Homo sapiens: one gene and its partner. The protein of the gene in region 2 purifies or fractionates together with the protein of the main gene of each other region. This does not show direct contact. Each region holds a gene or a part of one and is shown on either strand. Other genes may lie near its edges.

Evidence for each region. The genes of interacting proteins can lie anywhere in the genome.
Region 1: the proteins of LRIT3 (region 2) and GPR107 purify together in Homo sapiens (affinity purification with mass spectrometry; one large-scale study listed by BioGRID and IntAct). This does not show direct contact.

What each region holds. Positions count from the first base shown.
Region 1 is NC_000009.12:130,101,614-130,105,925, forward strand, and holds part of GPR107 (protein GPR107 isoform 3 precursor), read left to right. Parts: intron 1-2,806; coding exon 2,807-2,937; intron 2,938-4,312. UniProt on the Homo sapiens protein: Has been proposed to act as a receptor for neuronostatin, a peptide derived from the somatostatin/SST precursor.
Region 2 is NC_000004.12:109,850,189-109,855,272, reverse strand, and holds part of LRIT3 (leucine-rich repeat, immunoglobulin-like domain and transmembrane domain-containing protein 3 precursor), read right to left. Parts: intron 3,770-5,084; coding exon 3,297-3,769; intron 1-3,296. UniProt on the Homo sapiens protein: Plays a role in the synapse formation and synaptic transmission between cone photoreceptor cells and retinal bipolar cells.

The DNA of each region.
Region 1 (4,312 bases), on a different chromosome or scaffold from region 2:
GAGTTTCCACAGGTAGAATATGGTAGTAGACGTGAGGGGCAAACATTTCCTAAATCCTTACCATGTTTGGGGCCGAGGGCCAAGGCCAGCCTTACAAGGCTGTGAGTCTTTTGCGGGAGGAGCCTTGTCTTACTGGAAGCAGAACTTGGATGTAAAGAACTTACAATGAACAGAGAGGTTTTAGCAGGGATGCACAGCTACCCTGCTCTGCTTGACCAGACAGCGTCTGTTTGACAGAGTTGTCCCTGTGAACTTTTCTCACATTTTGGAGCACAAAGTAAATGTGGAAGGTTGGGGGTGGAAGGGGACAACTCCTGAGGCACCCAGATCAGCCGTCCCAACTCTGGCAGAGTTTGCAGCAGAGCTCCTCTCGGAGTTCTAACAGACCTCATCCACCCTTACGTTCAATAATGAGGAACATGTGTTGACATCAAATGAATGGGACAGGCCAGTTGCTCTGTGTTTCCAAGGAGAGAATAAGCACTCAAGTTGGAAGGATCAAGGAGGGCTTTGTGACAGAGATAGGGCTGGCCTGGGTGTTGAAGGAAAGGAATGTGACAGAGGCAGTAAATACACATGACCCTGCTGTCTGCTAAGCAAAACATGCTGAGGGACTGTGCCGGTCTTTCGGCTGTCGAGCCACCGTGGTCACTTCTTCAGCCAGACTGAGTCCTACAGCCTGCCGAGGTCTCGGAGTTGTGAATGACGGAGACTGGGTTGTCACCCGGCTGCGTGTGCCTCTTCCCTTTAGTAGAGTCCCTCATCCCTCTAGAGTCTCCCCCCACCAGCCTGAACCAGGCTGTCGTGGGGCATAGCCTTCCAGGAAGCCCGTCCTGGGCTTCCCTGAAAGACAGACACACAGAGTTCCATGGAATGTCAGTCTGAGAAGATAAGGACATTTAACAAATTAAGAAAGTCATGAGTATTTAGACAATAGAACTAGTCTGGGAGGGCCTTAAATGTCAGCCTGAAAAGTTAAAACTGCTTCCTTTTGGCCATGGGCAGTGACAGAAAGTTTCTAAGTAAGGAGTAGATGATGTCCCTGCAAAATGGTGTTTCAGGAACACTCTTGGCACGTTGTTCAACACTGGGAACATTCTGTCTCTCATGCAGTGTGTGAATTAAGGACAAAATGGAATTTTGAATTTAAGATGTGAAAGCCTTTGTTTTCTACTTTGTCCTCTTACTTTTAGACAGGGTCTCACTCTGTCGCCCGGGCTGGAGTACAGTGGTGATCATGGCTCACTGCAGCCCTAAACTCCTGGGCTCAGGCGATCCTCCTGCCTCAGTCTCCCGAGTAGCTGAGACCACAGACGTACACCATCACACCTGACTAATTTTTAATTTTTTTTTTTTAATTAGAGGCCGTGTCTCACTATTTTGCCCAGGCTGGTGTCAAACTCCTGGGCTCAAGCAATCCTTCTGCCTTGGCTCCCCAAATTTCTGGGATTATGGGTATGAGCCACCGCACCCAGCCCTACTTTGTCTTTTTAGATGGAGCCACAGATGCTAGTGTTTTGGATAGACAGGGCTTCACGAGCAGTGTGGGACAGGGAAGGACCCAGAAGCTGGGGGTCATTGGAGAGGCTGAAATTTCAGATAATTTTTGCATTAGTTTTAAATGAAATTTCGGATAATTTGATTCTAAGTCCTGTATAGAAAGAGAAATTAAACTTAGAGACTTCCTAAATAATAGCACTACAGATTTTACATGCAAAGTGTGGAGGATTACCTTTTACAGCAAGTCAGGCAGAGATTTGGGACCAGGGACTTCTCATGGGGTATATAGGTGGAATGATAACCTCTGCATCCATTCCCAGTGGTAATCTTCAAAAGGATGTATTATAAGTGGTAAATTTCCCTTATGCTCTGTGGCATCTCAGTTTAGCCAGTGGAAAGACTTTTTATAAAGACTTATGCTAAGAGCCTAATAACGGGCCTGAGTACAGAGCTTAATAGTGGGCCTGAGTATATGAGGCTGTAGGGCTGGAATCAGCCATGCTCACCCTCTGGTCTCTGAAAACACAGTTCCATTGTCTGGCACTTAGATGAGTTATTGTCACTGAGCACCATGGCCTGAAAAGTATGGGCATTGTGGCTAAATAGGGTGTTAAGTGCCACCTATCCAGCAGTCCAGCACCTGAGTGACTCCACTGGGTTTGGGGTACCTGAAAAGCAAAGTGTCCCTGTTATCTACTGCTGCATAACAAATCACCCCAAAACTCAGCGACTTAAAACGACAATAACCCGTCATTCTCTCTCTCAGTTTCTGTGGGTTAGGAATTCAAGAGTGGCTAGCTGGGTAGGTCTGACTTGGGTCTTGTGGTCATAGTCACACCATGGCTGGGAGCATCTTGAAGTCTCCACTCGCATCTGTCTTCTGGGCTGAGAAGCTTGCTCAGGTGGGGACTGGGACAGCCGGGGCTCCTGGGGGGGCCTTTCCATCTCTGCATGGTCTGTACAGCAGGGTAGTTTCAGGGTAGCCAGACTTCTTACAAGAAGGCTTAGGGCTCCAAAGGTCCCAAGAGAGCTGGGTGGAAGCTTTATCTACCTTGGAAATCACACAGCAGTACTTCCATCTTACTGTATTAGAGCAATTACGGCCTGTGCAGATTCAGGGGGGTGGCATAGAGACTCTCCTTGATAGCGGAGTGGCAGAGTTCTGGAAGAGCACGTGGGACTGGAAAGAATGCTGTGGTCGCAGATCGTGGGTCTGGAGGCCAAGGTGTACACCCCACATTGGGGCTGCTAGCATCATAACAGTCCACCCATGCTTTGGGGCCTCAGCAACTTCTCATGTCTGTAGGTCCTGGCAAATGTAGCCTACATCATCATAGAGTCCACCGAGGAGGGCACGACTGAATATGGCTTGTGGAAGGACTCTCTATTTCTGGTCGACCTGTTGTGTTGTGGTGCCATCCTCTTCCCAGTGGTGTGGTGAGTAGCTCACAGGGAGGGAGGCCACATGACAGCTTGGCTGTCAAGCCCAATAGCTGAACTGGCCATTCCCAAACTGATCTCAGTCACATGGGACGTGTGTTTAAAAGTACAGCTTTCTGAGTCCCAGACTGACCTGAATCAGCCTCCAGGGGCAGAACCCTGTGTCTTTTTCCAGTTACTCGGGGTATTCTGGCAGAGCTAATCCGTCACCATGAGCTGGCATTTAACAGAGTTCTAAGACAATAGAGAGGAATTGGGAAATGAGAACTTGGTAGTAACTTAAAGTAGCAGCCTGAATTTGTGGTGGTGGTAGGGAGTTGGAGAAATCCCATAAACAGCCAGTTCTTGCCAACTTAGGTGGAAAATGAGGAAGTTCATTAACATAAAACTAGTGATAGTTCTCAGCACACAAACATTTTTGATGTTTTCAGAATGGATTGCTCCATTCCTGGAAATGGCAGTGTTTAGATGCACAGATTGTGCATTGGGTCTGTGTAAAGAAGTGTTAGTGTCAAGTCAGTGGTTGATGAGAAAATATCCTTATTAAATCACATGCAGAGTGGTAGAAATTCAGAAGGCTAGCAGCAATAAAACACTTTACCCTTAGTGATATAATTCCATGGCTATTGGAATGCAATTCTTTTGAAATAAATTTTAAAGAAAATAGATTCACCCCGGCCTTCCATTACAAGTGCTTCTTTTTTTTTTTTTTAACCCGAGATGGAGTTTCGCTCTTGTTGCCCAGGGTGGAGTGCAATGGCTCAATCTCGGCCCACTGCAACCTCTGCCTCCTGGGTTCAAGTGATTCTCCTGCCTCAGCCTCCTGAGTAGCTGGGATTACAGGTGCGTGTCACCATGCCTGGCTAATTTTTTTTGTATTTTTAGTAGAGACAGGGTTTCGCCATTTTGGCCAGGCTGGTCTCAAACTCCTGACCTCCGGTGATCCACTTGCCTTGTCCTCCCAAAGTGCTGGGATTATAGGCATGAGTCACCGCAGCTGGCTGAGGTGCTTCTTATTGCAATGCCCCATCCAGTAAATTAATATTTTTGAGGATCCTGGGGTTTGTCAGTTACTCTCATTATTTATAACATGGTGCAAATGGAGAGTACTTCTCATTCCAGCCAGTTAGATTCACTCTTCACCCTCATTCCATCATACATCACACATGATCTCGTATCAGTTCAGCAGACAGCTACCAGCATAGAAGAGAGTATGAATGATGCTCCCACCTCAGCCTCCTGGGTAGCTGGGACCACAGGCACACACTACCATACCCAGCCAATTTTTTGTAGACAGGGTTTTGCCATGTTGCCCAGGCTGGTCTCAAACTCCTGGGTTCAAGTGATCTTCCCACCTCAGCCTCCCAAAGTG
Region 2 (5,084 bases):
CCTCCCAATACTAAACCAGGAAGAAGTTGAATCCCTGAATAGACAAATAACAAGTTCTGAAATTGAGGCAGTAATTAAATAGCCTACCAACCAAAAACAGCCCAGGACCAGATGGATTCACAGCTGAATTCTACCAGAGGTACCAGAGGTACAAAGAAAGAAAAAAAGAAAAACAGGAATTCATTTTATGAGGCCAGCATCATCCTGCTACCAAAACCTGGCAGAGACACCACAAAAAAAGAAAATTTCAGGCCAATATCCCTGATGAACATTGACATGAAAATCCTCAATAAAATACTGGAAAACTGAATCCAGCAGCACATCAAAAAGCTTATCCACCACAATCAAGTTGGCTTCATCCCTGGGATGCAACGCTTGTTCAACATATGCAAATCAATAAATGTAATCCATCACATAAACAGAACCAGTGACAAAAAGCACATGATTATCTCAATAGTCGCAGAAAAGGCCTTCTATAAAATTCAACACCCTTTCATGCTAAAAACTCTCAATAAACTAGGTATTGATGGAATGTATCTCAAAATAATATGAGCTATTTACGACAAACCCACAGCCAATATCATACTGAATGGGCAAAAGCTGGAAGCATTCCCTCTGAAAACCGGCACAAGACAAGGATGTCCTCTCTCACCACTCCTATTCAACACAGTATTGGAAGCTCTGGCCAGGGCAATCAGGCAAAAGAAATAAAGGGTATTCAAATAGGAAGAGAGGAAGTCAAATTGTCTCTGTTTGCAGATGACATGATTGTATATTTAGAAAACCCCATCATCTTAGCCAAAGCTGAAAAGCAACTTCAGCAAAGTCTCAGGATACAAAATCAATGTGCTAAAATCACAAGCATTTCTATACACCAATAATAGACAAACAGAGCCAAATCATGAGTGAATTCCCATTCACAATTGGTAAAAAGAGAATAAAATACCTAGGAATACAATTAACAAGGGATGTGAAGGATCTCTTTAAGGAGAACTAAAAACCACTGCTCAAGGAAATAAAAGAAGATATAAACAAATGGAAAAACATTCCATGCTCATGGATAGGAAGAATCAATATTGTGAAAATGGCCATACTGCCCAAAGTAATTTATAGATTCAATGCTAACCCCATCAAGCTACCATTGACTTTCTTCACAGAATTAGGAAAAACTACTACTTTAAATTTCATATGGGACCAAAAAAGAGCCCATATAGCCAAGACAGTCCTAAGCAAAAAACAAAGCTGGAGGCATCACGCTACCTGACTTCAAAATATACTACAAGGCTACAGTAACCAAAACAGCACAGTACTGATACCAAAACAGATATATAGACAAATGGAACAGAACAGAGGTCTCAGAAATAACACCACACATTTACAACCATCTGATCTTTGACAAACCTGACAAAACAAGCAATGGGGAAAGGATTCTCTATTTAATAAATGGGGTTGGGAAAACTGGCTAGCCATATGCAGAAAACTGAAACTGCACCCTTTCCTTACACCTTATTAACTCAAGATGGATTAAAGACTTAAATGTAAGACCTAAAATCATAAAAAACCCTAGAAGAAAACCTAGGCAATACCATTCAGGACATAGGCATGGGTAAAGACTTCATGACTAAAACACCAAAAAGCAATGGCAACAAAAGCCAAAATTGACAAATGGGATCTAATTAAACTAAAGAACTTCTGCACAGCAAAAGAAACTATCATCAAAGTGATGAACAGACAACCTACAGAATGGGAGAAAATGTTTGCAATCTATCCACCTGACAAAGGGATAATATCCAGAATCTACAAGGAACTTAAACAAATTTACAAGAAAAAAGAAAAACAAACAACTCCATCAAAAAGTGGGCAGAGGATATGAACAGACACTTCTCAAAAGAAGACATTTATGCAACCAACAAACATATGAAAAAAAAGCTCATCATCACTGGTTATTAGAGAAATGCAAATCAAAACCACAATGAGATGTAATCTCATGCCAGTTAGAATGGCGATCATTAAAAAGTCAGGAAACAACAGACGCTGGAGAGGATGTGGAGAAATAGGAACGTTTTTACACTGTTGGTGGGAGTATAAATTAGTTCAATCATTGTGGAAGACAGTGTGGCAATTCCTCAAGGACCTAGAACCAGAAATACCATTTGACCCAGCAATCTCATTACTGGGTATATACCCAAAGGATTATAAATCATTCTAGTATAAAGACACATGCACATGTATGTTTATTGCAGCACTATTCACAATAGCAAAGACTTCGAACCAAATGCCCATCAGTGATAGACTGCATAAAGAAAATGTGCCATGTACACACCATGGAATACTATGCAGCCATAAAAAGCATGAGTTCATGTCCTTTGCAGGGACATGAATGAAAGTGGAAACCATCATTCTCAGCAAACTAACACAGAAACAGAAAACCAAACACTGCATGTTCTCACTCATAAGTGGGAGTTGAAAAATGAGAACACATGGACACAGGGAGGGGAACATCACACACTGGGGCCTGTTGTGGGGTAGGGGTCTAGGGGAGGGATAGCATTAGGAGAAATACCTAATGTAGATGACAAGTTGATGGGTGCAGCAAGCCACCATGGCATGTTTATACCTATGTAACAAACCTACAAGTTCTGCACATAAAGTATAATAATAATAATAATAAAAAGAACCAGAGAAATACACATAGAACCTAAACAAGACCAAGTTCAAAATTCCAAAACTAGTCACAGCTAAACTAAGAGACCAAATCAGTTAGGAGAACCATTTGGGGCCAGTAAAATAACTGGTGTTTCCACCATTTCTTTTTAGATTAAGGAAATTTAGAAGCTATTCTTCCTAACTAATGAAGCCACTGCTATCGCATAAAGATGCCAGTGCCCCTCTCCTGCTCCTGAAGAACCTAATGAAGAGTTGAAAAGCAAACTGAGCAGAACTTTGTACCAGAGTATGGAGCAATGCTGTGCTCACAAGAGTCTATGCAGTTGGTTGATTCTGTCTCTCAGCTGGATGCTCTTTAAGAGAAATGGTCCTCTCTCCATTTATGATGCAAGTTCTTCTCCACTTTTCCACACATGTATGTACACACATGCATGCACACACACACAGCTCTTACACCTTACACAGGAGAAAGGGTAACTTGACCTAGGTTAACTAATAAGGTACTATTCCAGTAAAAGTGCAATTACAGAGTAAAAAGCCAAATCCAACAAATTTTAAAAGACTGGACAAAAAAAGCTATGCATAGCAAAGTAACTATAGATGAAAAGCCCAGAGGCTTGCGAGCTTACCAAGAATAATCCTGCTTGGGGAAAGGTCCAGGACTCCAGAAGGTGTTGAAACTAAATGAGTCCAGCTCTCCAGGAAATCTGGTGGCAATGTGGTGAGTCTGTTGCTTGATAAATCCAAGTAGGCAAGGTTCTTCAGATACCTGAGCGCCTCATTTGGCACACTGGTTATTTTGTTATTGTGCAAGTCCAGGGTCCTCAGAAGGGGCATGTCCAGCAGAGATGCCCAAGGGAAAGCAGCCAGAGAATTCCCATCCAAGCGCAACTCATGCAGTTGCTTCAGGTTGTAAAAGCTGCTGGGGTCAATGCTGGCCACGGAATTGTAAGTCACCCAGAGATACTGGAGCTCCACCAGGTAATAGAAGGCCTCCGCAGAGATTCTGCGGATGACAGTCTTCTCTATGCGAAGCTTCACAGTGTCCACGGGGAGGTTCGTAGGCAGCTCGTTCATATCCATGTCATTACATAGCACCAACCTAGTGTCACAACATGAACAATGTGAGGAAACTCACTTTCCAACACCCATTTGAAAAAAATACTTCTCATTTGAAAAATGTATCAATTTTCAGCTGGGCAGTGGCTCACGCCTGTAATCCCAGCACTTTGGGAGGCCGAGGAGGGCCTTGGTTCAAATCTAACCAAGGTCTAAGGTTTGCCACCTCCTCTGTGGCCATGGAAAACCACTTCACCAGTGTCTCAACCTCATTTTCCCATATGGCACTGTTATGGATGATTAATTACAATGGATGTAAAACTCTACAACTTCCTGGCACAGAATAGGTACTCAGTAGGTATTTGCTGCTACTGTCAACAACCTCGGTTTTACATGGAAAGTAACTGAGGCCCACCAACATTCAGTAACTTTCCAAGGTCACCCAGCTAGTGGGTTTCACAGCCACCTTTCAAAACCACTTCTGTCCAACTTAAAGTGCACCTCTTTAGGAAATGGCCCATTTTAAAAGAACCCCCTGTTAAAATAATAAATCAATCCTTGTTCAGAGAATAATTTATTTAGGTGAAAAAAAAAAGTGTTCACAGTACATGTTTAAAGTTGAACTCTGTTTTAATAACGTGACTTGCACATTGCTTTCTGCCTAAGGAATAAACCAGAAATTAGGAGTTGACCTTGAGCAAGTCACATTTTGATCTTGTTTGTTGGCACATATAAAACAGGCATAGAAAAACAACACTGGGCAATGTCCCAGCTGGGCAATGTGGCTCATGGCTGTAATCCCAGCACTTTGGGAGGTCAAGGTGGGCAGATCACCTGAGGTCAGATGTTTGAGACCAGCCTGGCCAACATGACGAAACCCCGACTCCACTAAAAATACAAAAATTAGCCAGGCGCGGTGGTAGGTACCTGTAATCCTACCTACTCAGGAGGCGGAGGTGGGAGAATCGCTTGAACCTGGGAGGCAGAGGTTGCAGTCAGCCAAGATCACGCCACTGCACTCCAGCCTGGGTGACAGAGCGAGACTCCATCTCAAAATAGAAAAGAAAGAAAGAAAGAAAGAAAGAAAGAAAGAAAGAAAGAAAGAAAGAAAGAAAGAAAGAAAGGAAGGAAGGAAGGAAGGAAGGAAGGAAGGAAGGAAGGAAGGAAGGAAGGAAGGAAGGAAGGAAGGAAGACAACACTGTCCCATGTGTAAATTTAAAGTATGAGGAATCTGAGAATTTAGATTCATTTTAGCCTGGAAAAAGACTTATCTCCTATGAGATACTCATCTGAATTATGAAAAATGAACAATAAGAAGTTTTGCAAAGTATCATCTAAATTATAGCACACTATAAATT